2 linked regions of the Homo sapiens genome follow. The protein of the gene in region 2 interacts with the protein of the main gene of each other region in a pairwise test. Each region holds a gene or a part of one and is shown on either strand. Other genes may lie near its edges.

Region 1 (15,853 bases), about 25 Mb from region 2:
GCCGGGCTGGTCTCGAACTCCTGACCTCAGGTGATCTGCCCACCTCGGCCTCCTAAAGTCCTGGGCGTGAGCCATTGCGCCCAGCCGGTCTTTTCATTTGAGAATGCTTTGCAGTTTACAACGAACTTCCCCGTGTCTGGCCCTCAAGTCGATCCTGTTTCTATTTTAGGGATGAGGAGCGGGCTCAAGGGTGGCAGCCGTGCCCTCAGGGCAAGTGGTGAAGCATTGGGAAGTCAGATCCCACCTCCTCCCTCTCCGGGGCTCTTTGTACCTCTCCCAGATTTGACATGCACAGGGACCCCTTTTCCCTCTGCTCCCTGCACAGGCAGAGGTCCCCCGCCATCCCAACAGCCCCAGCCCATCACTGCTTCCTGGGAGGAGCCTGAACACTGGGACCCAGCCAGGGGGCCCCCACACTCCTGGGAGGGCCTTTGTTCAGGTGGAGCCTTCCAAGGGCACAGGACTGAGCCTGCCGCACCCAAGACAGCCCTGAGCATGCAGGCGGACCAGGTCGAGGTGTGGCCCTGCCTCTGCCGAGAGAGTCACATCCCCTCTCCTCCTCACGGGGGCAGGGAGTGCTGGAGACGAAGGGGTGCCGCTGAGCCCTGCCGTCCTGCAGAGAAGCATGCATCGTGTGTGGCGGTCAGCAAGCACCTGCCTGCAGAGGCTGCCCCTTCCCGAGGCGTGGGGTGCAGACACTGGGCCCCCTTTAGCTCCCGGGGAGCCACGCTGAACTTCCCGAGCTCGGGGTGGGATGTGGCCGGGGGTCCTGAAGTCCAGCCTGTTCCGGGCTCCAGTCTCCACTTTTCTGGGATCTGAGTCCCTGGGGGAGAGCCTGTGGGCATCCTGAGGGTAGAACTGTTGGGGCCACCTCTCACACGCCATGCTCAGGGCTCCTGCCTGTCTTCTCCCTGCAGTAGAATTGATCCTGGTGGTCTCCGTGTCCCTTCCTTTCCCCGACCTCAGCCGGGGCCACCTGAGTCCCCCGGGTTACCCTGCATACCTCCAACTCTCAGGAAGAAGCGAGGGTAGGAGGGACCCCACCCCTCCCGGGGCGCCCCGGGCTCATGGTGCAACTGGACTCGTCTCCCTGCAAGAACCAGCCCTGCACCGCTGGGGTCCTGGGGCAGACCCCGCTCTGTACCCCAGTCCCAGAGCCCCGGCTGCCACACCGCTCTTCCCGGGGCAAACAGGGACAGCCTATCCGGGCGTAACTAAGGCTGCCTCTGCCATAAAGCCGTAATCACAGGGACATTCACCAAGGCATGGGGCAAAGGTCTGCATGGCCCCTTAGAACCTGAACCCACACAACCACCCCACGAGGCAGCCATTCTTTCCTCTATCTCACTTTACATTGAATTGTATAGTTTTGAATATGTGGCCTGACGACAGCCAAAAGAACATAAAACGGGTTTTCCAGAGAAGTCTGGTTTCTCACCCTGCCCCGTCCACCCCGCCAAAGGCACCTGTTTCTACTGGCTTTTCTTTTTATTTTTTAGAGACAGGGTCTCGCTCTCTTGCCCAGGCTGGAGTGTAACGGCACAATCTTAGCTCACTGCAGCCTCAAACCCCTGGGTTCAAGCGATCCTCCCACCGCAGCCTCTTGAGTAGCTGGAACTACAGGTGTGCACCATAGGGCCCTGCTAATTTTTTTTTAATTTTTTTGAAACTGAGTCTTACTCTATCACCCAGGCTGGAGTGCAATGGCGCTATCTCAGCTCATTGCAACCTCCTCCTGGGTTCATGTGATTCTCCTGCCTCAGCCTCCTGATTAGCTGAGATTACAGGTACCTGCCACCACGCCTGGCTAGTTTTTTATATTTTTAGTGGAGACAGGTTTCACCATGTTGGCCAGGCTGGTCTTGAACACCTGAGCTCAAGTGATCTGCCTGCCTCAGCCTCCCAAAGTGCTGGGATTACAGGCATGAGCCTAGCTATTTCATATTTTGTAGAGACAGGGTCTTGTTCTGTTGCCCAGGCTGGCCTTGAACTCCTGGGCTCAAGCGATCCTCACACTTCAGCCTCCCAAGCAGCTAGGACTACAAGCATGTGCCACTATGTCTGGCTAATTTTAAAACTTTTTGTAGATATGAGGTCTTGCCACATTGCCTAGTCTGGTGTTGAACTCCTAGCCCCAAGCAATCCTCCTGCCGTGGCCTCTCAAAGTGCTGGGATTACAGGCGTGAACCACTGTGCCCGGCCTCTATTAGCTTCTTCTTTTTTTTTTTTTTTTGAGACAGAGTCTCGCTCTGTCGCCCAGGCTGGAGTGCAGTGGCGCGATCTCGGCTCACTGCAAGCTCCACCTCCCAGGTTCACGTCTTTCTCCTGCCTCAGCCTCCCGAGTAGTTAGGACTACAGGCGCCCACCACGCCCGGCCAATTTTTTTGTATTTTTAGTAGAGACGGGGTTTCACTGTGTAAGCCAGGATGGTCTCAATCTCCTGACCTCGTGATCCACTCACCTCGGCCTCCCAAAGTGCTGGGATTACAGGCGTGAGCCACTGCACCTGGCCCGGCCTCTATTAGCTTCTTGTTCATCCCTCCAGTCTTCCTTGTACTGGTGCAAACACGAATCTACATTTTTCTCTCCTGCCCTTTCTTACACTCAAGGTAGCATATTATACACCAGTTCTGCACCTTGCTTTTTCATTAACAATGTACCCCAGAAGACCTTCCAAATCAGCACGCAGAGGTCTTCTGCTTTCTTTTTCATAGCTGCATAGTACTCTGCTCTGTGGCTTGCTAAGTGACTTAGCTAGGCCCTCAACAATGGCAGCTTGGCTGTTTTCAGTCGGTCACAATGACCATCGATGTCACCGTGGTGATCCTTGCACCTGTCCCTTTTACATATGAACAAGCAGGTGAATGGCACAAGTTTCAGAAACGGGATTTCTGAGGCTGAGTGCTGTAGCTCACACCTGTAATCCCAGCACTTTGGGAGGCCAAGGCAGGAAGATGGTTTGAGCCCAGGAGTTCAAGACCATCCTGGGCAACATAGCGAGACCCTGTCTCTATGAAAAAAATATAAAAATTAGCTGGATGTGGTGGCACACACCAGTGGCCCCAGCTACTCAGGAGGCTGAGGCTAGAGGATCACTTCAGCCTGGAAGTTCAAGACTGCAGTGAGCTAGGATTGCACTACTGTACTCCAGCCTGAGCAGAAGAGACTTTGTCTCAAAAGAAAAAAGAAGAAGGAGGAGGAGAAGGAGAGGGAGGAGGAGTGAGAGGAGAAGGAGAAGAGGGGAGGGGAGGAGGAGAAGAAGAAGAAGAAGGGGGGGGAAAGGAGGAGAAAGGAGAGGGAGGAGGAGTGAGAGGAGAAGGAGAAGAGGGGAGGGGAGGAGGAGAAGAAGAAGAAGAAGGGGGGGGAAAGGAGGAGAAGGAGAGGGAGGAGGAGTGAGAGGAGAAGGAGAAGAGGGGAGGGGAGGGGAGGAGGAGGAGAAGAAGAAGAAGGGGGAGGAGAAAGGAGAAGAAGGGGGAGGAGAAAGGAGGAGAAGGAGAGGGAGGAGGAGTGAAAGGAGAAGGAGAAGAGGGGAGGGGAGGAGGAGAAGAAGAAGGAGGAGGAGAAAGAAGAAAAAGAGGAGGAAGAGGAAAAAGGAGGAAGAGGAAGAAGGAGGGGGAGGAGGAAAAGAAAGAAAAAGGAGGAAGAGGGGGAAGAAGAGGAAGAGGGAGGAGGAGGAGGAGGAGAAGGAGGAGGAGGAGAAGGACAAAGAAGTAGTGGGATTGCTGGGTTCTAGCACAAATCGGGGCCATGGTCTCATGGACAGTGTGGCCAGACTCCTTCCCTGGGGCTCCGCTGCCTGGCCCCTCCACCAGCAATGCGTCCAAGGGCTCGCTCCCTGAGCCGTGCCTTTGGGGCACGAGATCTGATTTGGGGATTCGCCTGGACAAGAAGCAGAACGGCAATGTCTTTCTCTGATGTGCATTTCTCTGATTACAGACACCTTTTCACATGTTTGTCCTGTGGATTTCTTTTTCCGTGGATGATCTATTCACCTCCTTTGCCTTCTTTTATTGGTTGTGTTCTTTCATACACGTTTAGGAGCCCTTTGCCTGGTAGATCTGAGTTGCAAGTATTTTTCCTAGTGTGTGCTTTGTGTTGTGACTTTACTTCCGAGGATTTTTGCCTTGAATCTGTTTTGTGGTATTTAGATTTTTAATCATGATTAGAGTAACCTTTTTCCACTCTGAAGTTATAAAGAAAGTTACATATGTTTTCTTCAAGGCTGGGCACAGTTGCTCATGCCTGTAATCCCAGCTCTTTGGGAGGCTGAAGCAGATGGATTGCTTGAGCCCAGGAGTTCAAGAACAGCCTAAGCAGCCTAGTGAGACCCTATCTCTATTTAAAAATATAAAAGTTAGCTGGGCATGATGGTGCATGCCTGTAGTCCCAGCTACTTGGGAGGCTGAGGCAGGAGGATTGCTTGAGCCCAGGAGGTCCGGGCTGCAGTGAGCCAGGATCGTGCCACTGCCCGCCAGCTTGGGTGGCAGAATGAGATCCTGTTTCAAAACACACACACACACACACACACACACACACACACACACACACACACACACACTTTTTCTTTTTTTGGAGACAGAGTTTTGCTCTTGTTTCCCAGGCTGGAGTACAATGGTGCAATCTCGGCTCACTGAAGCCTCCGCCTCCTGGGTTCAAGTGGTTCTCCTGCCTCAGGCTCCCGAGTAGCTGGGACTACAGGCGTGAGTCACCACATCTGGCTAATTTTGTATTTTTAGTAGACATGGGGTTTCTCCATGTTGGTCAGGATGCTCTTGAACTCCCGACCTCAGGTGATCTGCCCGTCTCAGCCTCCCAAAGTGCTGGGATTATAGGCATGCGCCACCACACTCAGCTAATTTTGTATTTTTAGTAGAGACAGGGTTTCTCCATGTTGGTCAGGCTGGTCTTGAACTCCTGACCTCAGGTGATCCACCCACCTTAGCTTCCCAAAGTGCTGGGATTACAGGCGTGAGCCAGCTTGCCCAGCCAGAACTTAACATTTTTTTACAAAAGGAACTACTAAATGATGAAAAATTTCTGGAGATGGATGATGGCAATGTTTGTACCACAACGTGAATGTACTTAACGCCACCGAACCGTACACTTAGAATGGTTAACTTGGCCTAGTGTGATGGCCACCATGCCCAGCCTATTCACCTAATCACACCTGTGATCTTAGCACTTTGGGAGGCTGAGGTAGGAGGATTGCTTGAGGCCAGGAGTTCAAGACCAACCTGACCAACGTAGCAAGACCCTATCTCTGAAAAAATATTTTTTTAACTTAAAAAAAATGGTTAAAATGGTAAATTCTATGTGATGTTTACTTTACCACAATAAAAAGTAAACTTTGGCTAGGCACAGTGGCTCATGCGTGTAATCCCAACACGTTGAGAGGACGAGGCGGGAGGATCACTTGAGCCCAGGAGTTCAAGACCAGCCTAGGCAACAGAGCAAGATCCTGTCTCTACAAAAAAAAACAAAGAAAATTAGCCAAGCGTGGTAGCACCAGCCCTTGGTCCCAGCTACTTAGGAGGCTGAGGTGGGAGGATCACTTGAACCTGGGAGGTGGAGGCTACAGGGAACTGTGATTGCACCAGTGAACTCCAGTTTGGGCGACAGTGAGATGTTGTCTCATAAAACAAACATAAATAAATAATTCAAAATTTTAAAAATTAGGCTGGATGCAGTGGCTCACGCCTGTAATCCCAGCACTTTGGGAGGCCAGGGCGGGTGGATCACCTGAGGTCAGGGGTTCGAGACCAGCCTGGCCAACATGGTGAAACCGTCTCTACGAAAAATACAAAAATCAGCCGGTGTGGTGGCGCACGCCTGTAATCCCAGCACTTTGGGAGGCCGAGGCAGGCAGATCACAAGGTCAAGAGATTGAGACCATCCTGGCTAACATGGTGAAACCCGTCTCTACTAAAAATACAAAAAAAAAAAAAATTAGCCGGGCGTGGTGGCAGGCATCTGTAGTCCCAGCTACTCAGGAGGCTGAGGCAGAAGAATTGTTTAAATCTGGGAGGCGGAGCTTGCAGTGATCCGAGATCGTGCTACTGCACTCCAGCCTGGCAACAGAGTGAGACTCCATCTCAAAACAGCAACAAGAACAAAAACAAAATTTAACCAGACGTGGTGGTGGGCACCTGTGATCCCAGCTACTCGAGGGGGCTGAGGCAGGAGAATCACTTGAACCTGGGAGGCGGAGGCTGCAGTGAGCCGAGATGGTGCCACTGCACTCCAGCCTGGACGACAGAGTGAGACTCCATCTCAGAAATAAATAAATACAAATTAAAAAATTAAAGAGATAATAAAAGTGTGTGATTAGTAACAAAAGCCTGCTATGGAAAGAATGCATTTGGGTTAGAGGAGCGACACCATGAGTAACGTAAAGAGTCCCGCGGAGATGGCCACAGCTTCTCTGGAGGCTCCCAGCGCATCCCAGGACCCCGAGTGCAGAGTGTGGGCCAGGACAAGGGAAGCACCTTTCCCATCCCCGGGGGATGTCTTTCTGCAAACATCCTGGGGACGTGGGACATTGTCGCTACTGCTGCTGTTGAGTTATTTCTTGGCACCTGTTTCTGCGGCCAGGTTGCAGGCATCACTGTGGCTAGCTGCCCCAGACGGCCGTGTGGGCCTTAGCAAGGAGGGGCCTCCCAGGTGGCCAGTGCAGAACCCGCAAGTGGGGGGGAGAGATGGCCCGGGAGGCTGCCCCCGCGCTCCACAGCAAGAGGCCACTGGGCTGCTGCCTAAATCCCCAGCCACATGGTGGTAAGGACGACACCCAGAAGATGCACAGACCTCCCTGCACTGGCTCCTGAGTCCCACCTGAGCCGAGAAAACAGGCTCCCGGGTCCCACCTGAGCTGAGAAAACAGGCTTCCCAGAACCCCGGGCAGATGCCATGGGTGTCCTGGGGGGCCCTCGGTTGCCCAGGCCTGAAACTCCTCTTCCTGCAGCGCTCAGAGGGGGGCGGGACTTGGGGACCCAGAAGCGTGGCAAGGGGCTCCAGACGGATCCCCTCTCCAGCCTGTCCTCCACCTGTGACAGGAAGCAGAGGCAGCTCCCTCAGGGGCCCGCCCCCACCTGAGGATCCCTCACAGGACTCCTTGGGCCAGTGGTGCCCTAACCCCATCCTGGGCCTGCTGTGTCCCCTGGCAACCACCAGCTGGGGCTTTAGAAGGGGGCTGGCCCCACCCACAGAGGCTGTGATCACTAGCCGCTTATCCCCATTTTTACATTGCTGGTTTGCTTGTTTTGTTTTTTTGAGACAGGGTCTCACCTTGTCACCCAGGCTAGAGTGCAGTGATGAAATCATGGCAGCCTCCACCTTCCAGGTTCAAGCCATCCTCCTGCCTCAGCCTCCTGAATATCTGGGGCCGCAGGCACATACCACCACGCCCGACTAATTTTTGTAATTTTTTTGTAGAGATGGGGGTCTCACTGTGTTGTCCAGGCTGGTCTGGAACTCCTGGGCTCAAGCGATCCTCCTGCTTTGGCCTCCCAAAGTGCTGGGATTACAGGCATGAGCCACCGTTCCCAGCTGGCCTTAATGTTTTTTATGTTTATAGAGACAGAGAATGGGGGAAGGGAGGTTTCGCTATGTTGCCCAGGCTGGTCTTGAACTCCCGGCCTCCAGAGATCTTCCCGCAGGGCCTCCCAAAGCGCGGGGATTGCAGGTGCGCGCGGGGCCAGCGGCCCCCCGGGCGGGAGAGGAGGGCGTGGCCGGGGGGCGTGGCCGCGGGGCGGGGAGGGGGCGTGGCCCGGGGGGCAGGGCGGTGTGACGCGCGCGCCGCGGATCCCGGAAGCGGTGTCAGATGCTGGGGAGCCGGGCGGGCGGGTGCGGTGGCGGCGGGCGGCGCGGGGGCACTTGTTGTTCTTCGCGAAGTCGGAGCCCGAGCGCCAGGCGGCGGCGGCGGCCGAGGGGAGCGCGACAGTGAGCGCCGGCGCGAGGACAGCGCGTGCCCGCGAGGAGCCGCCGCGCGCCCGCGCCCTCCGCGCGACGCCAGGTGAGGGGCGGTGGGGCAGCGGGGCCCGGGCCGCGGCGGGGACGGGGACCGGGGCGCGGGGCCGGGGCTACCTGGCCGCTGAGTCACGGCCGCCTGGGGGCGCGGGCCGAGGGTGGCGGGGTTGGGTGCGCGGGGCCCGAGACCCTCATGCGGCCCGCGGCGCGGCCCGGGCACCTGCCCAGGTGGGCCCCGCCCCGCAGGCCCGGGGGCTTCCCCGGGACGCGAGGCTCTCTCCCCTGCACGTGCCGCCCGGGCCATGCTTGCCGCGCCGGGGGCCCCAGGGCGCGGACCCCAGACCTGGGAGGACGAGGATCCACGCGGGTCGGCGGCGCGCATCGGGCCCGCGCCTTCACACCTGCGGGGGGCGGGGCGGGGCGGGCGCCACGTGCGGGCGGTGCGGGGAGGGCGCGGGCGCGTGGATTCTCCGCGGCTTCCGCCCCAGCGTGGCTTCCGCGTGCGGCCCCGGACTGCCCCCCGCGCTTCCTCCCGGTGACGGGCGGCGCTCTGGCCCAGTGGCTGGGGTCACGCGTGCCCGGGAACGGGGTGGGGGTAACCGGGTCTCCCCACAGGCGGGATCCTGGGACTGGTGTCGCTCTCAGCCGCCCACCTGCCAGGGTTGCTGGAAGGAAGGCCGTGGGGAGGCGGGAGGGGGGCAGGTGACAGTGGCCCCAAGGCTCGTCCCTTTGCTCACGTGTGGGGCAGGGGCTCCGGCCTCTTCCCGCTCCCACTGCGTGAGTTCTTCTGTGCCTCTGTCAAGTTCAGGAAACTGTGTATGTGCCCGTGACTGTGTGTGTCTGCGTCTGCACAGCCTCTAGATCCTGGGGGGTGGGACCAGGCGCCACCGAGAAACCCAGAAAGCCAGGACCCCGCCTGGCCTTGGCCCTTGACCTGGGTCCGCCTGGGACACAGCAGTGGCCCTGCACTGCATTCTCGCGCTCACACCGTGTGTGTCCGTGTTCGCGGGGCCTCCCGTGTCCCTCTCCTGGTGTCCTGCGTCCCTGAGCATGCTGTTTTCTTGCTTCTTAAGTAGCTCTTGTAGCTGAGGCAGAAATTAGATCCACTCACCATTCATTCACCAGGTGACCCACAGGCAGCCAGCCAATCTCTGGCCAGGTGCCTGGCCTTGGGAAGATCCTGAGACTCAAAACGCCCCCCACCGCCCCCCATCGTGGTCTAGGGGATATCTGTGTGGTTCGGCTCTGGCAGCGCCCTTCCCACCCCTCTGATTCTCCAGGGTGGGCTGCCAGGTCTCTTTACTGGCACTGAGGTTTCACCGTCACGGTGTGTTGTTGTAAGGGGTTCTCCAACACAGAGTGGGGTGCCCTATGCAGCTTCTCCAAACCCAATGTCTTCAGGGACATGGAGCATTAAAAGAGCCGTGGGCGGGGTCTGGAGAACATAGGTGGGCTGTGCAGGTGTCTGGGACACACCTACACCCTATTTGGGCGTCCAGTGCCATTTATGAGAACATCTCCCTTTCTTAGGTAACCCAGTAGGAATGTCTGAGTTTGACCTTGGGAGAGGGAGTCTGCTTTTAAAACTAGACCTCTCATTATTCCAAAATAAGACATTTATTAAAGCAGAAAAACCAGGCTTCTCCTGCCTTTTATCCTTGAACCGAGCCAGGGCTTTGAGGGGCTGGTTGCCCGCAGCGTCGACTCCCCAGGTGCTGGTAAACCCGGGAGCCAGCGTTTACCGAGGGTCAGGGTTGTCGGGGCGCCAGCCTTTGTGTGCACCCGGGAGGCTGCTGTTAAGGGAGACCGTCTTCCGGGCCACTTCGCTGTCTACAAGGCGTGTGCTTTCACCCACGGGGCTCAGCGATGGCTGCGTTTGTTTACAGTCTCTGGCAAAGCTGTTTGCCACCCAGACGGAGAAGAAGTTGTGCCTGTTCTTGTCCCAGCTGTTTCTGAGTCTAAAGGTTTCTGGAGTGGACTTTCTGGGTTTCGGGTCCAGTCCACACGGGAAATGGAAATCTGGCCAGCTGAGAGAGGGCTCCGTGTGGCCGCCTTTCAACAGTAAACAGTGACTCACCGCTCCGTCCCCACCCTCCCTGCTCTCCGCGAATGGAAGATGCCTTTCCCCGCTATTTATTTTTGCTTTTTATAAGTCACAGACTCGTCATGTTTCCGCTTTCCTACAGTTTCAGGAAACTGGGAGTGTCGTCTTAAAATCATAGAGTTTTAGAGCAGGTACAAGCGAACTTGAGTGGCCACATGCCCCACCCCCCGACCAGCTGCTGTAGATGAGGAAGCCCAGGCCATGAGGTCTGCTGGCCTGTCCCACAGGCCGGTGGGGTCTGGTGTAGAGCCTTCCTGCTTCTCCGCACTGTGCGTCGGGTGTCCTGGGGAAGGTATTGGGGTGGAGACTGCCCTCTCCCTGCCCTCCCATGCGGGGCCGGCTCATCTCGTACAGCGGGGGCTAGTGTGGGGTGTAGGGAAGACCTTCTCCCTGCTTGCAAGGAGCTCACCATGCCTTGGGGAGGCCCCCTGTCCCCAGAAGGATCTAGAACCAGGCCTTGGTAGAGGGTGCTTGCCTACGCGAGGAGGAGAGCAGTGGGGAGTGTTTCTGGAAGAAGCAGGGCAGGGAACCACGTGCTCTCTGCAGATGGTGATCAGAAACCTGAAACGGCATTGGGGTGGGGGAGTCGGGGTTTGGGAGGAACCCCCAAGACTTTTGACTGCCTGTGGGGCTGTGTGGGGGGCACCAGGATCAGGGTGAGGGCATCCCATTTGGCAAAGCTGTGGTCCAGACAGGAGACGCTGGAGGCCGGAGCCTGGGCAGGTGCTGTGGGTTCAGGCGGGTGATGCTTGAGGGCTGGGATCAAGCCTGGTTGGCGCGTGGATGAGGAAAAGAGAGAGGGGCAGGGGCAACTCCGGTGAATGATGCGGTTGGGGGCTGGGGGGCATCTGGGCCCCCCGGAATGCCCCTGACTGGACTTAGAGGCTGGGAGCGGATTGAAGCCCCAGGGCGGCCGGGGGAGAACAGGATGCTGATGGGGAGCTGGAGGCCGAGGACAGGAGGATGGTGTGGTGGGAGCCAGGGCGGGGACTGGAGGGGGTGTGGTGTGTTCTGCAGTCTGCTCTCTGCTGCTGCAGCTGCCTGAGTCACCTCTGGATGTAGCGGAATGACACAGCTTCCTCAGACTGCAAATGCAAGGTGACCAGACGTCCTCCAAGCCGGGCCGACAGTCATGGCTTGCTGGAGGGCAGCCAGCCAGGGCCAGGCTGCTGGCTGGTATGGGCCGGGCTGCGGGGTGCCAAGTGGGGTGCCTCCCGCATGCTTAGTGGGGCTGTGTCCGGGACAGCCGGACAGTGGGGGCCCTCGCAGTGTAGGACCTCATCCTCAGTAGGAAGGGTGTCTGGCTGGTCTCTGGGACCAGCTGGGCTGCAATTAGTCGGTTGACACCTGTTTGACAGGCACCCACTGGGTACCAGTGCCACAGCGGCCCCACCTACCCTTGCGGCCCAGTGTGGAGGGCACCCGGCTTGGGGTCTCTGGCAGAAAGGCTCCTGGGAGAGGCGGGTACACCTTGGGTGGCCTCTGGTTTTGTGGATTGCACCTGCCGTGGGAGTCACTGGTCGGGGGGCGGGAGGGCGCTTGCTGCTGTGCTGCTGGGTTTCTGAACCCGTGTCTCTCGCACAGAGCTCCCGTCCTCCGTTCCTGGTCTTCCTCCTGCCCCTCCTCCCTCTCCCGCATCCCACATCCTCGGAGACCCGCGGAGAATAGAAGTGGAAGGGCCACTCCGTCTTGGTCAGACTGGCTGGGCAGCTGAGGGGGTGGGGCATGGAGTCTGTGTCATCATTCACCCCTTGGGCAAGAACAAGTGACCCATCCAGAGCCCCCATGCTGGCCTCGTAGAGCGAGCGGCAGCCCCGATGCGTCCTCTCATCTGGGAAGAATCAGAGCCCCAAAGCTGAAATCCCCGTTTCTCTATGGGCATCCACAGCCGGGACCGTTCAGAGGGGTCATCCAGCCGTCAGCTGCTCAACTCACTTTTGCACTCTCTCTTTTTTTTTTTCCTAAAAGATAAGGTCTTGCCCTGTCACTCAGGCTGCTGGAGTGCAGTGGTGTGATCACAGCTCACTGCAATCTCGACTTCGAGGCTCAAGCAATCCTCCCACCTCAGCCTCCCGAGTAGCCGGGACCATAGGCACATATGTGCCATCACAACTGGCTATTTAAAATTCTTTTTTTTTTTTTTTTTGTAGAGATGGGGCCTTGTTATGTTGCCCAGGCTGGCCTGAAACTACTGGGCTCGAGCATTCGGCCTCCGGAGGCGTTGCTATTACAGGCAAGAGCCACTGTGCCCAGTCCCAACTTGGTGGAGAAAATGTTCCCTCCTGGACCCCAAAGCAGGTCCTTCTCAGCTTGTGCCAGCACAGCAAGAGGTGCCAAGGCTGCCAGCCCCCCACTGAGCAGGGTCAGGCCCATGGGTGACCAGTGAGTATTTGCTGGGACTTAAAAAGTTAAAAATGGCCGGGCATGGTGGCTCATACCTGTAATCCCAGCACTTTGGGAGACTGAGGCAGGAAGATCACTTGAGTCCAGGAGCTCGAGACCAGCCTAGGCAACATGGTGAGACCCTGTCTCTACAAAAAAGTTTAAAATTCTCTGGGTGTGGGGGTGCCCACCCGTAGTCCCAGCTGCTCGGGAGGCTGAGGCAGGAGGATCGCTTGAGCTCAGGAGGTCTGCAGTGAGCTGTGATTTCACCACTGCACTCCAGCCTGGGTGACAGAGTGACACCTTGTCTCTAAAATGAAAATTAAAAGGGAAAACATGATCCTCCAGAAGCTGAGGTGGCTGCCTGGGGATCACCTGCTCCTGAAAGCACAGTTCTGGACGACTGACCCTGGGCTGCCTGCCCTGCCGGGGGGAGCCCAGGGCTCTGATCCTCACCCTCTGCAAGGTGCCTTCCTGGGCGGAGCCGCCCTGCCCTGCGCTTTATGGAGCCCAGGCCCTCAGTCTGGATCCTGGAAAGGGGCGCCCGGCGTCCTGGCTCCGTCACTCATCCCCAGCTGCAGCCGCAGGAATTGCCTCTGTCTGAGGCTGCTGGCAGTTCCTTTTCCTTGAGAGGAAGTGATGCCCCCGCTGAGCCTTGTTTAGTTCTGCGTCACGTCGAGGTGTCTGGCCTTGGGTTGAAAACCCTGCCTCTTCCATCCGAAAACCAGTTACCTGAGAGCTGTTCCAAGTTATAGGTGGTGCCGGAGAACTTTGCTGCCCGGCGCTGCTCCCGGGACGTGGGGCGTGAGCGCTGCACCCTTACTTACGTCGGCTGCTGGGGCCCCACAGCGGAAACTCAGACCCGCCCACCCAGGCCCCCGCTGTGGCGCTGAACACTGCACTTCTCTGGTGACCACCGAAACTCAGAGGAGCTCGGGGTGTCGGGTGCTTGTGCGTGGCGATGCTGGTGTTTTGTTAGCTGCTGGGCGTAAGACACAATGCGAGGACGTCGTTCCTCGGGGGCTGCTGGAGGGGAGCTTGGCTGCAGTGCTGACCAGGTGCTAATGCAGTAGCCCCTGCCTTGGGCCCGGGGTAGTGCACGGGCGTCTCTGCGACCCCAGGCACGCTTTCCCCCTGGATGACACCCTAAGGCTGCGTCTCTGGCCCTGGGGTGGGAGCGCTTTCTACATGTGCTCTGGCGGCCCTGGAGGCCATGTGAGGTCGGACAGTTCACAAAACCCCATTTAGGGCAGTCGTCATTTTTAGATCAGTTGCTTTACAAACTTTTTTTGTGCATACAAAACTCTTCTCTGAATGTCCTTCCAAAAGCAAGCTGTCATCTTTCTTGCCTCTGATGTTTAAAGCGACATTAGGTTAAGGCTACTTGGATTTATTCTGTGCATGGTGGGGAGAGGGAGGCGCCAGCACCATCCCATCCCGTGCTGGGTTCCTGAGAGAAGCTTTGCTGCTTGGCTGGGCCGTCCCGCTGCGTCGTCTCTCCAGGCGCGTGGCTGGTCCAGGCTTCCTCGGCAGAGCAGAGTCGTGACCTGCCCAAGGAGGTGGGGGGCAGGCTTGCGAGCACAGCGTGGGGGCCGCCTGGGAGCCCTGCGTCCGCCAGGTCCTCATTCTTCAGAGGGCCCCAGTGCAGGTGTGCCTCGAAGTACTGGGGTTGGAGCGGGGCACAGGCGTGCTTCAGTAGCCCTGGCAACCTTGACCTCCTGGAAGTAGTCAGCCACCCCTCCTGGGGCGCCCCCGGCTACCGTGTGCCTCCGCAGTGTCACAGGGCATCGCGGAGGCATCTTTTTAGTGGAAAGATCCCCACGCTGAACTCTGCCCCTGGCATCTGGCCGAGCCCCACACGTCACCGTGGGTCTGGCCAGACGGTCCTGTCCCCCGGACCTTCCTTTTCCGCCCGGCTGTGCTGCCACGGCGGGCAGTGGGCCCGGGGGCCCAGGAGCGGGTCCTTGCTGGGTGGGAGGCCCGGGTGTGTGGGAATGCGCGCGGCTCTGTAAACATCTGGTGACTCACCGCATAGCTATGTCGTGGCCGGCCTGTGCACTGACGTGCTCGCAGTGGAGCTGGAAGCGGTGCCCGCGGCCCCTCCCTCTGACATGGAAAAGTTTCTCATGGTGCTCCCAGCCGCCGGCATTTGCAGGTCCCCACGGTGGCGGAGGCAGCTGGGCCCCAGCCTCTCCACTGTCACCCTCACCCCAGGACGTGGTGCGAAGGAGCCTGGAGCCCACCTGGCCGTCCCCGGGACCGGCTGGTGCCATCCTGTGCCATCTACGTCAGCGCCCTGAGATCAGCTGGCCTTGGCAGGGGCAGCGGACTCGGCAGCCTGGCGCAGGACCCTGTCTCACCTGTGCGGCCCTCTTGTTGTGGGGGTTTGTGGGTTGCGGGGGTGGGGCCCCCATCGGAGGCAGGGCTGGAGGGTGGAGGGATTTGGGCCCGAGGGCTCCCTGGCCCAGGGTGTGGGGAGGGTCCTGGGCTGGCAGGGAGGACGGGATGCGGTCACCCGCCCCCATGATGCCCATGTCCAGTGGAGGTGCTGACCAAGGACACCCCCCACCGCCGTGTGCTGCTCTGATGTTCCTGTGGGAACCTGTGTCTGGTATTTGGGGTATGGGAGTGGGTGCTGTGAACCCCTGTCCCGCGAGCTGCCCGGCGCCTTCTGCCCGCCCGTCCCGGCCGCCGGGTGCAAATGGGTTTGTTGACTGCCTGCCGGCCTCGTGATGTCTGTGCAACCTGACCTGAAGTCAGGATCGCGTTTGGGCTTCTCGGTTTCCATGACAACCGTGGGGGCTGGCTCGGTCCCAAGGTCGCCATGGCAACTATCGGAGGGCTCATGCCGGGGATGCTTTGGCTGGGTTTTTCATGAATGATTAGAATGTGTGACACAATGCAGACGTGAGGACGGCGGGGGCGGCGGCGGGGACGACTCCCGCCAGACGGTCAAATGCTCGGCAGGGCGGCGGCTCCCCCACCTCCCTGGTCTCTGGCTGCGGCCCCCGGACCTGCCGCCCCTCAGGAACCCCACACCCCCTTGGGCCGCAGGGTCCTCGCTCGGGGGCAGCTTAGGTGGAGGTGGTGATGTCACAGCCGCAGCGGCCAGGGCCGTGGTAGGTGTCCCGTGGCCTGTGGGGAGGGCGGGGCGGGAGGGCGGCTGGGCCTCCACCCAGGCCCACCGTGGGGGATGGCGATGTCAGGGGCTCCCCAGAGGCCCCCTCTCGGGGATCCAGGCTGGGTCCGGAGCACCGGAGCCTTTGCCAGTGTAGGGTCGCTGTCCAGCGGGGCCCCACACTCCTCGGGGCCGGCACAGCTGTCTTGAGGGAGGGAGGTTTTGCCACCAGTCACTTTGGTCCTCGGTACGGGGCACCTTGTGCTGTGCAGGTGCAGACGTCTTCT
Region 2 (15,112 bases):
ATAAATACCTGATAATTCTTTTAGTTTTTTGAGAAATCTCCACGCTGTTTTCCATGACTAGTCTAAATTTGATTATACCTTTGGGATTATTTGGAAAGAGGAATGCTATACATATTTGGTTAATTCTAAGCTGAAGTGCTTCTGTAAAAATAAGCATTACTTTAAACTGCTGTGTCATCCAAGTAAAGGAGTTGTATTTGTTCACCAAAAGGTCAGTGCAGATATGTTCCTGCGAGGATAAAAGCCAAAGTTCCAATTACCTCCAGTGAATTTTCAGGCTGTGATGAAAGCAACTGGAATAAGTCTTCCAGAGAGAAAGAAGTATCTGTCCCATTCAGATGTCTCTGTAGAGAAACACAAAAAGTGCATCTTTCACATAAAAGACTGAACTGGTTGGGGCTTTAGGCTTTATCTTTAAAGGATCACCAGGTATTATTTCCACACTGGATTTTTATGCTATTATGTTCCTTGGTTGGAAGTTCTACTTTTTATTATATTTTGAGACGGATCTCACTCTGGCCCAGAATGGAGTGCAGTGGTGCAATCTCGGCTCACTACACCCTCTGCCTCCCAGGTTCAAAGGATTCTCCTGCCTTAGCCTCCGGAGTAGCTGGGATTACAGCTGTGCACCACCACGTCTGGCTAATTTTTGTATTTTTAGTAGAGACAGGGTTTCACCATGTTGGCCAAGTTGGTCTCGAACTTTTGACCGCAAGTGATCCACCCACCTAGGCCTCCCAAAGTGCTGGGATTACAGACGTGAGCCACTGCAGCTGACCTATTTCTCTGATTATGGTACTCAGTATTTCAACATGCATACTTAAAAGTCCAAAGCTAATCAGTATTTCTATTCCTACCATAAACAACTTCCATGTAATTTTTGGCTAATTGTTAGTTTCAGCTTATTTTGCCCCTCCATAGCCAGCCCTCCCAGTTGGTTACACAATTATATAATTTTGGCCAGGTGTGGTGGCTCACGCTTGTAATCCCAGCACTTTGGGAGGCCAAAGCAGGCAGATCGCCTGAGCCCAGGAGTTGGAGACCAGCTTGGGCAACACAACAAGACCGTTTCTACAAATTAAATTAGCTGGGTGTGGTGGTGTGCACCTGTGGTCCCAGCTACTCCGGGATGGTGAGGCAGGAGGACTGCCTGAGTCCAGGAGGTTGAGGCTGCAGTGAGTCGTGACAGCGCTGCCACACTCCAGCCTAACAGAATGAGATCTCGTCTCAAAAAATATTTTTACAGTCAATACTTATTTACATTTACTCCAATTTGTTTTTTTAAAACCAATTTATCGATGCTTCATCTCACTCCTGGCCTTTATGCTTTAGCCTCTTTCTAGTTGAAAGAACTCTTCAGAGTTCTTTTTAGAGAGGACCTGAGCAGTAAACCCAGTTTTTGTTACATGGAATTATTTTGAGACAGTCTTGTCCTGTCGCCCAGGCTGGAGAGCACTGGTGAGATCTCAGCTCACTGCAATCTCCGCCTCCTGGGTTCAAGTGATTGATTCTTGTGTGTCAGCCTCCCGAATAGCTGGGACTACAGGCATGTGTCACTGCGCCTGGCCAATTTTTATATTTTTAGTAGAGCTGGCGTTTTGCCATGTTGGCCAGGCTTGTCTTGAACTACTGACCACAGGTGATCCACCTGCCTTGGCCTCACAAAGAGTTGGGATTACAGGCATGAGACACCATGCCCGGCCTACATGGAATTATTTTGCCTTCATGCTTAAATGATGAGTTAACTGGTAAAAATATAAGGTTTAATGTTTTCCCTCAGTACTCTGTCTTATGGCATTTATTACTACTGGTAAGTTTGCTCTCAGTGTTATTTATAATGAAACTTTTCTATCTCAGGTAATTTAAAAAATGTTTCTTCTTAGTTCTTGACGTTCTGTTTCAATCTGGTATGTCTAGGACTTAATTTGTTTTCGTTAGGAGCTCTGTGTAGTCCTTTAATCTGAGGACTTTTCTGGAAATATTTTGCCATAAACTCATTTTAAATATTGCTTATCTTTCATATTTTATAGTTTCTTCTGGGACTCCTATTAGAAGTAACTTAGATTTTTCTCTTCTATCATTGTCTCAATTTTGCTTTCATATTTTGCATCTTCTCTGGTATATTCTAGATAATTTTCTTAGATCTTTCTTCCAACTTACCCTTTTCCTTAGCTGTTCACATCACTTCCACTGAATTTTCAATGAAAATGACTTTTTTCATATCTAGAATTTCATTTGGGCTCTTTTCTAGATCTTTTTCTTTTTTCATGATAGTCTGTTCTTGCCTTATAGATTCTGTTCCTATGAACAATTTAAACACTGATTTAGAGTCTTTTTCAGAGGACTAGGAATCCTGACTTTTGCATATGCTGACTCATGGCTATTTATGTCATTTTTAATTCTTAAAAGGTGAGCATTTTGGGGAGCAGTTTTGCATTTTTCTTTTCAAGAACCAGTGTTTATATCATTTTCCAGACTGTACTTTCTCTTGGCCGAGGATTCTTGATGGTGATGGTAGTGTGCATTCAGATCTTATATCTAGCTTTGGGGCCCCCACTGGGGTTCTGATTTCTAAAGGGTAGCTAGAATTGTACCAGTCCCCATTTCCTAGATATTCTTCCAGAGTTGTCATCTGGAAGAATGGAAATGCCAGTGATTCACTGGTCTAACTCATTTCTGTTTTATTTCAACAAGCTTTAAAAGCACCTACTAAGTAATAGCCCAATAAAAGAACAGAAATATCTTGTCAGAGCTACTATAAGAAATGTGGCTGGGTGCAGTGGCTCACACCTGTAATCCCAGCACTTTGGGAGGCCAAAGTGGGCAGATTGCTTGAGCCCAGGAATTTGAGACCAGCCTGAGCAACATGGTGAAACCCCACTTCTACTGAAAATACAAAAAATTAGCTGGGCATGGTGGTGTGCACCTATAGCCCCAGTTACTTGGGAGGCTGAAGTGGGAGATCACCTGAGCCCAGGAGGTTTAGGCTGCAGTGAGCCATGACAGCGCCACTGCACTTTAGCCTGGGTGACAGAGTGAGATCCTGTCTCCCCCGCCGCCTTCCTCAAAAAAAAAAAAAGTGTTAAGTACACGAAGATGTGACGTAAATGCTCAGGCTAGGAACATGGAGATAACACAATGAGGAACCAAGCCTGATAAGAATTAGGCACAAATGCCTGGCTTTGAATGATTAATATGTTTCTGAAAAGTTTTGTCCAAATTGATGTTTGTCCTATGTCAAATTACATTTTAAATTCTCTCCAAGGAAGCTCCCTACTTCATTTGTCTCCTCATTAATATTTAGTAAGTGCCTAGTCTGTGCCTAGCAGTGAATTAGTTTGTTACAGTTCTTGCTTTTCTGGGAAGCCCAGTGAGGGAGTAAAGACGAAGACATACCTGGGAGAAAGGCAATATACAATTCAGTGTTAAATAAGTGAAAGACTAGTGAAAACATCTTTTCCCTCAAACAGAGCTGTGAATACTCAGGGAAGTGGGCAGAAATGTTGTCCTCTTCAACATATATATGGTTCTGTCAGTATTTTAATATAAAAGTCCATGGGTAATGATTTGACAATACAGTATGTATGCTGTGGGGAGAGTGGTAAAACCATACAATGCATCCATTAATTAGGAAATAGATAAGTCAGAGGAGCTGGGGAGAATACCAGCTGGGAAAAAAGAACAGGCAGTTGCCAAATGCCAGGTTGCAATTGAGGGTTACAAAAGGGTTAAAGCTCCACTGGTCAGAGTGAAAATGGGAGGGTTCCTTGGGGTGTGCTCTCTACCCCCTCCCCTTCATCTGAAGAATGTCAAAAAGGGCCTCAAGGAGACCACTTAGAACTCAGTGTGTGTTTTCCGCAGTTTGGGGACACAGAAGCTTAGTGTCCTGTTTTTGCCTGGGAAATATAAACGATGAGAAACCATGCAAGAGCCATAGTTAGGGAACTGGAAAAGGGTCTAAGGGCATGTTTCCAGGTGCTAGGCGGCCAGCAAATGGTTGAGAGGGCCACCTGAAGAGGTGAGATGCATGTATACCACGGAACATTCAGGGAAGAGTCCTAAAGGACCAGCTGCAGTGGAGATGCATTTGCCCCTGTCAAGAGGAAGACTCCCAGCTGTGGGGCCAGGGGTCTCCAAAGAACCTATACACGAAAAGGTGCCCACGTGACAAAGAGTTGTATAATATTTAAATGTATCGCGTGGTCAAGAGAAACAATTTCCTATGTTCTTAGCACCCCACACCCTCAACCCCAGAGAAATCAGCAGGGCAGGCCACACAAAACTGAGGAAAGATGCTGAATTTTAGCCCAGTGTGTTTTGTTTTGGATTTTTCTTTTTTGAGACAGGGTCCTGCTCTGTCACCCCGTCTGAAGTGCAGTGGCATGATGACGGATCACTGCAGCCTCAACTTCCCAGGCTCAAGTGATCCTCCCACCTCAGCCTGCCAAACAGCTGGGACCACAGGCACACACCACTACGCCCAGCTAACTTTTGGTTCAGCGTTCTTGGAAATTACATTGGGTTATACTTTTTTTTTTTTTTTTTGAGACAGGGTCTCACTCTGTTGCCCAGGTTGGAGTGCACTGGTGTGATCACAGCTCACTGCAGCCTCGACCTCCCAGGCTCAGGTGATCCTCCCACCTCAGCCTCCTGGATAGCTAGGAGTACAGGAACACATCACCACACCAACTAATTTTTGTAATTTTTGTGGAGATGGGGTTTTGCCATGTTGCCCAGGCTGATCTCCAACTCCTGGGCTCAAGCGATCTGCATGCTTTGGCTTCCCAAAGTGCTGGGATTATAGGTGTGAGCAACTGTACATGGACACACTGGGTTATTCTTATCAATTGCTGCACTGGGATGGCCAGAGCGATTTTCATTAGTATCTAGAATTTATGGGACCTGCCCTAGATTTCACCAAGGGGCTCTAGGTGGAAGCTGGAGGGGCAAGGGAGTGGTAGGCAGGCAAAGAGAACAAACCTGTTTTCTGATTTCATGCAAAATAAGTAATGTTCCATGTAATATTACATGGCCAGGGCTACCATGATGACAGCTGTCTGAGAAGGGTCAGGGCATGGTACTCTCCATCCTCCAAGGTATTCAAAACACAGCCCTAAACTCCACATTCTGGGAAGGGGACATGCTAAAGCAGGTGATGCCTAAGAAAACCGTCAGGGCAAGACCCCTGAGGGTATGCCTTCCAGGTGGAAGTGCCACGTGGTTATTAAATATCTCGAGTGCCTGTTTGCCATGCTTGTGGGCAGGACCTCAGCAGGGCTGAAGAGAAATCAGAGTACAGCCCAAATGAAAGGAGGAGGAAGCACAGATCGCAGAAAGCATCCATCCCTTCAGCCTGGCTCCGGGAGTTCATCTTTGTACACCTCTTCTCACAGCCAAAGAGTAAGGTTAGGCAATGAGGAGTTAAGGAGGTGGTCCCACTGGACCATGGATGCCCAACGGTTCAGCCAGGCCTGCCAGGAGACTGAACAAAGATTTCAGCCCAAGCCTTAGCTGACATCATGGGTGATTGGCTGTAGGGTTGGTCCTCGGCTTGCTCTCCTGGACTAGGCCAGCCTGGCTACCTGTGCATGTGGCTGGTTGAGGACTCCTAGGTTCCCCATTTCTTCATCACTTGCCTTGGCAAACATAACTAGCAAAACCTGCTAGCAAGGTCCTGGAAGGGGGTGTGTGCACATACACACAAAATCTTGAGTTTAACCAGAGAAAACAATTGTATGGGCTAATTCATTTATAAATCAAATTACTACTCCCATAACTTAAAGACATAGGTATTTTCATATATCATATTTGTTAATAGTAGAGCATACTGTTTTACATGCTCATTCTTGACACAAACTGTCAATGCCACAAAATCTACATTAAAACCAAAACGGCAAGGCTTGAATATTCTGACAGGCTTACCTCATTTCTAGATTCAGTGGTCTTTTCTGCCTCCCAGTCAGGTTTCTCTGCTATTTTGTTTTCATCATCATCATTCTGCTGAAGTGAGTTCTCCTTCTGGGCTGACACCCTTTCTTCATTTTCCTCATGCTGGGAACTATGATCCACAGCTTCGTGCTTTTCTCTTAGTACCCCATTCTCCTATAAAAGTACGAAATTTCATCAAATAAGCAAACAGTCTTTAAAACTGCATTGTGCTTATTGTTCAGGGACCATGAAAACCCACAAGTCAAAAGCTAAGACCGGCATTTCAATATTTCAGTATCAAAGAAACATTTAATTCAGAAACAAAGGTCAGTTTTACATCCTGTCCTGAGACAGGCTGTTCTAATCTGTGCAATTTAAATTAACATGCACTTATAAAGCCCCTGAATTTAAAATACTCATGAGTTAGATTAGATTTGGAAATTAATGTTGCCAGCAGGCAGTTTTAGTTTTCTGTTGAAAATTGATTCCTTCCTTCCTCCCTTCCTCCCTCCTTCCCTCCTTTCGACGGTCTCCCTCCATTGCTGAGCCTGGACTCTACTGCCGTGATCTTGGCTCGCTGCAACCTCCCTGCCTCGGGCTCCCGTGATTGTCCTGCCTCGGCCCGCCCAGTGCCTGGGATTGCAGGGACGCGCCGCCATGCCTGACTGGTTTTTGTATTTTTGGTGGAGATGGGGTTTCGCCGTGTTGGCCAGGCTGGTCTCCAGCTCCTGACCTCGAGTGATCTGCCCGCCTCGGCCTCCCGAGGTGCTGGGATTGCAGAGGGAGTCTCGCTCACTCAATGCTCAATGTTGCCCAGGCTGGAGTGCAGTGGCATGATCTCGGCTCGCTACAACCTCCACCTCCCAGCTGCCTGCCTTGGCCTCCCAAAGTGCTAAAATTACAGCTTCTGCCCAGCCGCCACCCTGTCTAGGAAGTGAGGAGCGTCTCTGCCTGGCCACCCATCGTCTGGGATGTAAGGAGCGCCTCTGCCCGGCCACCCCGTCTGGGATGTGAGGAGCGCCTCTGCCCGGCTGCCACCCCGTCTAGGAAGTGAGGAGCATCTCTGCCTGGCCGCCCATCGTCTGGGATGTGAGGAGCGCCTCTGCCCGGCCACCCCGTCTGGGATGTGAGGAGCGCCTCTGCCCGGCTGCCACCCCGTCTAGGAAGTGAGGAGCATCTCTGCCTGGCCGCCCATCGTCTGGGATGTGAGGAGCGCCTCTGCCCGGCCGCCCCGTCTGGGAGGTGAGGAGTGCCTCTGCCCGGCCACCCATCGTCTGGGAAGTGAGGAGCGCCTCTGCCTGGCCACCCCGTCTGGGAAGTGAGGAGCGCCTCTGCCTGGCCACCCCGTCTGGGAAGTGAGGAGCGCCTCTGCCCGGCTGCCCATCGTCTGGGATGTGAGGAGCGCCTCTGCCTGGCCACCCCGTCTGGGAAGTGAGGAGCGCCTCTGCCTGGCCACCCCGTCTGGGATGTGAGGAGCGCCTCTGCCCGGCTGCCCATCGTCTGGGATGTGAGGAGCGCCTCTGCCTGGCCACCCCGTCTGGGAAGTGAGGAGCGCCTCTGCCTGGCCACCCCGTCTGGGATGTGAGGAGCGCCTCTGCCCGGCTGCCCATCGTCTGGGATGTGAGGAGCGCCTCTGCCCGGCCGCCCCGTCTGGGAAGTGAGGAGCGCCTCTGCCTGGCTGCTGTGCAATCTTCCAAGTGTGAAGTGACAGCCTTTCTGCAGGTGTACCCAACAGCTCCGAAGAGACAGTGACCATCGAGAATGGGCCATGATGACGATGGCGGTTTTGTCAAAAAGAAAAGGGGGAAATGTGGGGAAAAGAACGAGAGATCAGATTGTTACTGTGTCTGTGTAGAAAGAAGTAGACACAGGAGACTCCATTTTGTTCTGTACTAAGAAAAATTCTTCTGCCTTGGGATGCTGTTAATCTATAACCTTACTCCCAACCCCCTGCTCTCTGAAACATGTGCTGTGTCAACTCAGGGTTAAATGGATTAAGGGCGGTGCAAGATGTGCTTTGTTAAACAGATGCTTGAAGGCAGCATGCTCATTAAGAGTCATCACCACTCCCTAATCTCAAGTACCCAGGGACACAAACACTGCGGAAGGCCACAGGGACCTCTGCCTAGGAAAACCAGAGACCTTTGTTCACGTGTTTATCTGCTGACCTTCTCTCCACTATTATCCTATGACCCTGCCACATCCCCCTCTCCAAGAAACACCCAAGAATGATCAATAAATACTAAAAAAAAAAAAAAAAAAAGAAAAGAAAATTGATCAAACAGCTAATTGGAAGCAAACACTGATCAAATATGGAAACTATTTTTTTTTTTTTTTTGAGACAGAGTCTTGCTCTGTCGCCCAGGCTGGAGTGCAGTGGCACGATCTTGGCTCACTACAAGCTCGGCCTCCCGGGTTCACGCCATTCTCCTGCCTCAGCCTCCCCAGTAACTGGGACTACAGGTGCCCGGCACCACACCCGGCTAATTTTTGTTGTATTTTTAGTAGACACAGGGTTTCACCATGTTAGCCAGGATGGTCTCGATCTCCTGACCTCGTGATCCGCCCGCCTCGGCCTCCCAAAGTGCTGGGATTACAGGCGTGAGCCACCGCACCCGGCGGAAACTATTATTATAAACTATTAATTCTGGTTCTCTCTGAAGGTTGGCAACAGGGTGGGAAAGAGTTTACTTCACTTTATACGTGTCTATAACTGTGAATATTTTACAACAAACACATATTGCTTTATTTATTTATTTTTTTGAGTCTCACTCTGTCGCCCAGGGTGGAGCGCAGTGGCGAGATCTCGGCTCACGGCAGGCTCCGCCTCCCAGGTTCACACCATTCTCCTGCCTCAGCCTCCCAAGTAGCTGGGACTACAGGTGCCTGCCACCACGCCCAGCTATTTTTTTTTTTTTTTTTTTGGTATTTTTTAGTAGAGACGGGGTTTCACCATGTTAGCCAGGATGGTCTCAATCTCCTGACCTCATGATCCGTCCGCCTCAGCCTCCCAAAGTGCTGGGATTACAGGCATGAGCCACCACGCCCCGCCATATTCCTTTTATAATCAGGAAAATGATAAATGTAAAACATCTCCACAGATCTATACTTATTTACCCAGATAAGTCCTTCTACCTTAATTTACTTTATAAATAAGGAGACCTAAATAATTAAAAGGCTAGAGAATTCTTCTAAACATTCAAATATGGTTACCATTTAGAGTGTACTGCATATTCAGATAGTTTCAACTATCATGTTAAAAGCTCTCTGGATGTATTTTTTCCCTATAACATTAAAGCTTGTCAAACTTTTTCACTCTTTCTGTTTCTTCCAGGAACAGGACACACTGGCACATCCTTTTCCCACCAAACCACAGAAAAACATTTTTAAGTGAAGGTTGAAGAAATGGCAATTTACAGATGCCAGAAGAAAGGATAAAAATCAAGGCAAGATAAGAAAAAAGGAGGCTGATGTTCTGCTGGTCCACTTGGTTTACTGGCTTCTCTGTCTGATTGTGCCTAACTCTGACACTGTGCCTTCCCTCTAGACACTGTAGATGATGTTTAGTCCTAGCTCAATCAGTCTCTCCCTTTGCACATTTCCGTTACAACCCTGCTCATGTGCTCAAGATATTGCTCCTGCTACTCTCCCCTCTCTTCTGCATCAACAGTTCTTTCTCATCTACTGGACAATTCGCATCAGCCTACTATCATACACAAATACCCCCACCTTTAAAAACCCCTCCCTTGGTCCCACACTAGTCTTCAGATTCCATCCCATTTTTTGCTCCCCTTGACAGCAAAAACCTCCAAAGAGTATCTGTACTCAGTGTATTTTCTCTTCACCCATCAGCAAAATTTGACTTAGTTACCATCTCCTCCTGGAAACAGCTTCTTCACCTGGCATCCAAGTACCTCTCTATTCTCCTACCTCATCAAGAACTTCTGCTTTGCTGATTCTTCATCCCCTTGATATCCAAACATAGCAATGTCCCAAGGCTCAGTTCTCAGGTCCACCAAGCACTCTCCCACTTCACAGCCCTTGTATTTGCAGCCCTTTCTGCCTGTAAGCTCTCTCAACCCTCTTATCCTCCTGACCCCAGGTCTCTTCAAATATTTACCATCTCAGTTTTCTTTCTTAATCTCTCTATATAAAAAACTACATCAAAATCTTTTTCCCTTATCTTGCTTTATTTTTTCTCCATAGCATTTAGCACCAGCTGATATATTACCATGTTTATTTGTTTGCTGTTTGTCCTACTAGAATGCTAGTTTTTTGAAGGCAAGGGCTCTGTCTGCTTGGTTCCTGCTGTTGGCCACTTCGTAACCCAGATTCTGGCACATAACAGACCCTTGCTACATATTTGTTGAATAGCTGAACTCTTAGACACAATATCCTAAGACTTTGATAGAGATCTTACTTCTGATAGATTGTTCTTTCCTGCAACAATACTGATTCCTATATAAATCTGGGGAAGGAAGAAAAGGTGACTGATCACTTTTTACCTCTCATCTTTTGCCAAGGTAAGGTTTTTTGTGGTTGTTAAATCTGAATATAATTAAATTAAAAACTTTGGATACCCGAGGCAGCTAACTTTGTTTAAAAACTTGCTAGTGGTAGAGAGAGAAACTTCTAATCTCGAAATCAAATGATCTATTTTAGAACCATGAAGCAAAGTCCCCTAAATCTGTAATATGTGCATTAATACAACACACATGGACACACACAAACATGCAAACACAAGAATGTCACCTATATTACACAAATAATAACAGGGAAACAAGTGGTTGATACAGATCAAGCCCATAGAGAAATTGATCAAGCAAACTTTAGTCTGGGAAGGCTTTTTTTGTGGGGGGAAACTTTTTGAGTGTAATGAATTGGTAACAAAGGTATGTAAGATGTCTTGTCTGAAAACTCAGGAAGAGAAGGACTGGAGGCAGAGAAATTCTGTATGATCAAAATTCACACTACAGGAAGCCAAAATTAGGTATAATATAATAATGGATCATAACTCATTGAATAAAATGAGTTGAATAAAAGAATCAATGAGTGCACTCAAATATAAACAAATAAATGAAGGAAAAAGGAAATCTTTCTTATAGTAGAATACAAATAATAAATATAAAAGGAGAATGATGAATTAGAAAACCATCAATGGATGCTTAATTTAAGGAGTGAAAATTTTATGAGAAATAAGATACTTAAAGAGTCTCAAAGTATCACTCTGCAGATTACTTGTTAATTACAAAAAGAAAAATAATAACACTACAGGAGAAATCTGGCAGACACCATCTAAATCAAATGGTCAACTCTATCATCAAAATACGAAGTTAAACCAACATCGTGGTCTCCTGATATGGAGGACACAATACCATTTCTGTGATTTTCTCACCAAAAATTCATAATCTCAATCTAATCATTGAGGAAACATCAGATAAATCAACATTGGGGGTCATTTTTACAAACTAACTGATTGATGCCCTTCAACAATCTAAAGGTGAAGAAACACTGAGAGAGGAGTGTTTCCACATTACAGGTGACTAAAGAGACTCGGCAAATACATACTGACAGATTCTGAAAATGGACTGTAGATTAGATAGTAGCCTTACATTCAGATTAAATGTCCTGATTTGATAACTGGGTATAGAAAAGAAAATCACTGTTCTTAGGAAATATACACTAATAAGTATCTGGGTGATGAGGGATGCAATGGTTTCAATTCACATATGTATACAGAGAGACATCGTTATTAATATAGCTAAATGAGGCAAGACATAAATAGGTAAATCTGGGTAAAGGGTATATATATGCCATTTTTAAAAGTTTGAAATTATATTTAGCTAAAAGGTTCACCTAAAAATGCCTACATAGCAAAATCACTTTGGCTAAGGCAACAGCAAAGGGTTAGCCCAGAATTTCTCCCATTAAATTTTCTGTTTATTTGTGTTTTGCCCCCAAGGGCATAGACATATAAACTTTAATATTTTCAACTCTTCTAACATTTAAATTTCTTATTTCATTTTCTTATCTAATTGCTTTAGCTATGCTTCCCAAATAATGCTAAATAATAATGGTGATACCTGATATTCTTGCTGATGAATTTAATGAGAATGCTTCACCAATAAGGATGACTTGTATTTGAGATACAGTCAGTCATTTTAAATTGAGTATCAAATACAACACTAGTGCTGGGAATACGACAGTAAAAAATACAATCAGACCCTGCCCCCTTCACATCTTACATTCTATTTTTGTTTTTTTTGTAGAGATGGGGTCTTGCTATGTTGCCCAGGCTAGTCAAACAATTCTTCCTCCTTGGCCTCCCAAAACACTGGGATTATAGGTGTGGGTCATCACTCCTGGCCAGATCTCACATTCTAAAGAGAGAGGGAACCAAAAATACAAGTGAACTAATGAAATAACTGCAAGTTATGGTAAGTGAAAGAGCTAGCTAGCTATGTGAAAAAAGGAGACAAAGGAATTCAAGGCATAGATAATATCCGAATGGTATACTCATTTGCCTCTTACCATAGTTTATTTAACTGGCTTCTTTTTTTTTTTTTTCTTTTCAGAAGGAGTTTTGATCTTGTTGCCCAGGCTGGAGTGCAATGGCGCGATCTCAGCTCACCGCAACCTCCACCTGCAGGGTTCCAGCGATTCTCCTGCCTCAGCCTCCCGAGTAGCTGGGATTACAGGTGCCTGCCACCACACCCAGATAATTTTTGTATTTTTAGTAGAAACGAGGTTTCACCATGTTGAACAAGTTGGTCTCGAACTCCTGACTTCAGGTGATCCACCTGCCAGCCTCCCAAAGTACTGGGATTACAGGCATGAACCACCACGCCCAGCCTAACTGGCTTCTTAATGGTGCATAGTTGTTTCTAATCTTTTCTTGTAACAGATATTAAAATCTCCTCATCCATACTTCTTTGCACACGTGTGCAAGTAGGATACATTCCTGGAATTTATGCTGGGTCAATGGATATGTGTGTTTTTTATTTGATGGATTCTACTGAAAAGCCCTTCAAAAAAGTTTGTGCCAATTATAATTCCTACCAACAATGGATAAAAGTGCCAATCTGATAGATGAAAACTGGTGATCATGGCTTACTGCAGCCTCAAACTCTTGGGCTCAAGTGATCCTCTCACCTCTCAGCTTCCCCAGTAGCTGGGACTACAGAAACATGCCACCATGCCTGGCTAATGTTTACTTTTTGTAGAGATAAGGGTCTTGCTGTTTTGCCCAGGCTGGTTTCAAAACTTCTAGGCTCAAGTGATCCTCTCCACTCAGCCTTCCAAAAGGACTGAGTCATGCAGGCCAAGAGCGAGTCAGGGTCTTCTCTGATGTGCTTTTTTAGGCCTTGGTATCACTGTTATCCTGGTTTTGAAAAAAGAATTGGGAAGCTTTATTTAACATTGGAATTCCTGATACTTGGAATATTTGAAAGAAATCCCCTTGAATTCTGTCTGTGCCAGGAGTTTTTTGTTTTTCTGAAGAAACTGTTCTGACAACTTTTTAAACTTATTTCATGGGATATACCAACAGACATCCAAAAAGGCTGTTCCAACCTACACTGCCATCTGGTATGTGAGCAAACCCATTTCCTCACACCCCACCTACCTTGGGTTTGTTTCTTAATATTTGCTAATTAAAAGGTGAGAAACACAGCTCATTAGCAGGACAGTCTTGCAGGTATCAGCGTACATAGGAAACGAGGGGGTGAATATGAAGATAGTAGGGGCACAACTCTGGACTGAGGTGGGGACAGATTCGAAATGTTAGAGTGCCTGCCTGCTCTTAAAGATGAGCAACTGAAAGAGCCAAGGGAAGGAAGGTAGTGGCTACAGTGGATATTTCTTCTTTAGCCGGGTAGGGAGAGGAAGACACCAAGACCTGGGGACCATGTCACATCAGTCTTGAAAACCTGGTTTCCTTAGAGGGCCCCTTCCAGCTCTGACACTCCAAAGGTCTATGAATAAGTGACCGTATAATTTATCACCAAACCCATCCACTTTTGAGAGGGTAAGAGGGTACTATTAACCATTAGGCTGGGCAACAAGCATAAACCAGGACTATCCCATATGGTGACCCACCTGAGGCCACAGGGGAAGAGACTGCATAGCTCTTAAGAAGGGGAAGAAGAGACTGCATAGCTCTTAAGAAGCATTTTTTTTTTTGGTAGAGACGGGGTCTCGCCATGTTGCCCAGGCTGGTCTTGAACTTCTGGGCTCAAGCAATCCTCCCACCTCAGCCTCCCAAAGGGCCGGGATTACAGGCGTGAGCCACCGCGCCCGGCCACTCTCAAGAATCTGGATGGCAGACTGAATTCCACAGACTGAGGGAAGAAAAATACTTCAACCTGCACAGACTTAGGTATTGAATAAGTATCTTCTTAGATGGTCCTTCCTGTATTCATTCAACTTTTCTTTCTTGAGAGCCTATTGTGAAGCAAATATAATAAACACAACAAGCATTGTAAGTGATAAATGAGAGGAAGCATTTCCTCCAGGGCTAGTGGGATGCATGGGGAGATGTGCAGCCCAGGTCCCCTTCAAAGGAGGACTTGTGGCTATTCCCACATACCTGTGGGCAGCCAGCCTCCAGCAGCCAAGAGTCGCCTCCCCTAAGGTCACACCCATCCCAGTGTGCCCACATCCCATGACCTGTCAGGCGAGGGTAAAGAGACAAGGCCATCTTGGCCCAATGTGGGACAAGTCTGATGCATCCATGTCAGCCCAGGTGCTGGGTTCTGCCAGCCTGCATCACAGTTCGACTTCTGCTTCTGTCTAATCCTGCCTGTCTCCAGTTATTGATCCCAATGGCTCCCCCTAATAAACCTCCTTCACACTAAAGGCAGTCTCAGAGTCTGCTTCCCAGAGAACCCAACTTGTAACAGTTAGCAATTATTCTACCTTGAGGGAGAGAGAGGGAGAATCTCAAGGCAGGGAGGAGTGGAGGATTTACTACTGTAATATTTACAAAGTAAAAAAGGCCTACGGAATTTGTAATATAATTTGCAATTGCTTCTTGGCCTTTTGGCTAGAATCAAGTGTAATATAATGTGCAGTCTGCAAAGCCCAAAACAGCCTAGTGGCTAGGAGGTCCCAAGTTCAAAACAGCTGAGTAAAAAGACCTATCCTACCCAGTAGCTGGGTAACATTGGGCCAGTTGCTAAACCTC

What was found.
Region 1: the proteins of NFE2L3 (region 2) and MAFK interact in a two-hybrid assay, tested with the Homo sapiens proteins (one study listed by BioGRID).

Annotation. Positions count from the first base shown.
Region 1 is NC_000007.14:1,522,891-1,538,743, forward strand, and holds the start of MAFK (transcription factor MafK), read left to right. Parts: upstream 1-7,811; 5' UTR 7,812-8,008; intron 8,009-9,562; exon of another isoform or gene 9,563-11,990; intron 11,991-14,556; exon of another isoform or gene 14,557-15,567; intron 15,568-15,853. UniProt on the Homo sapiens protein: Since they lack a putative transactivation domain, the small Mafs behave as transcriptional repressors when they dimerize among themselves.
Region 2 is NC_000007.14:26,168,933-26,184,044, reverse strand, and holds part of NFE2L3 (nuclear factor erythroid 2-related factor 3), read right to left. Parts: intron 6,103-15,112; coding exon 5,923-6,102; intron 345-5,922; coding exon 261-344; intron 1-260. UniProt on the Homo sapiens protein: Activates erythroid-specific, globin gene expression.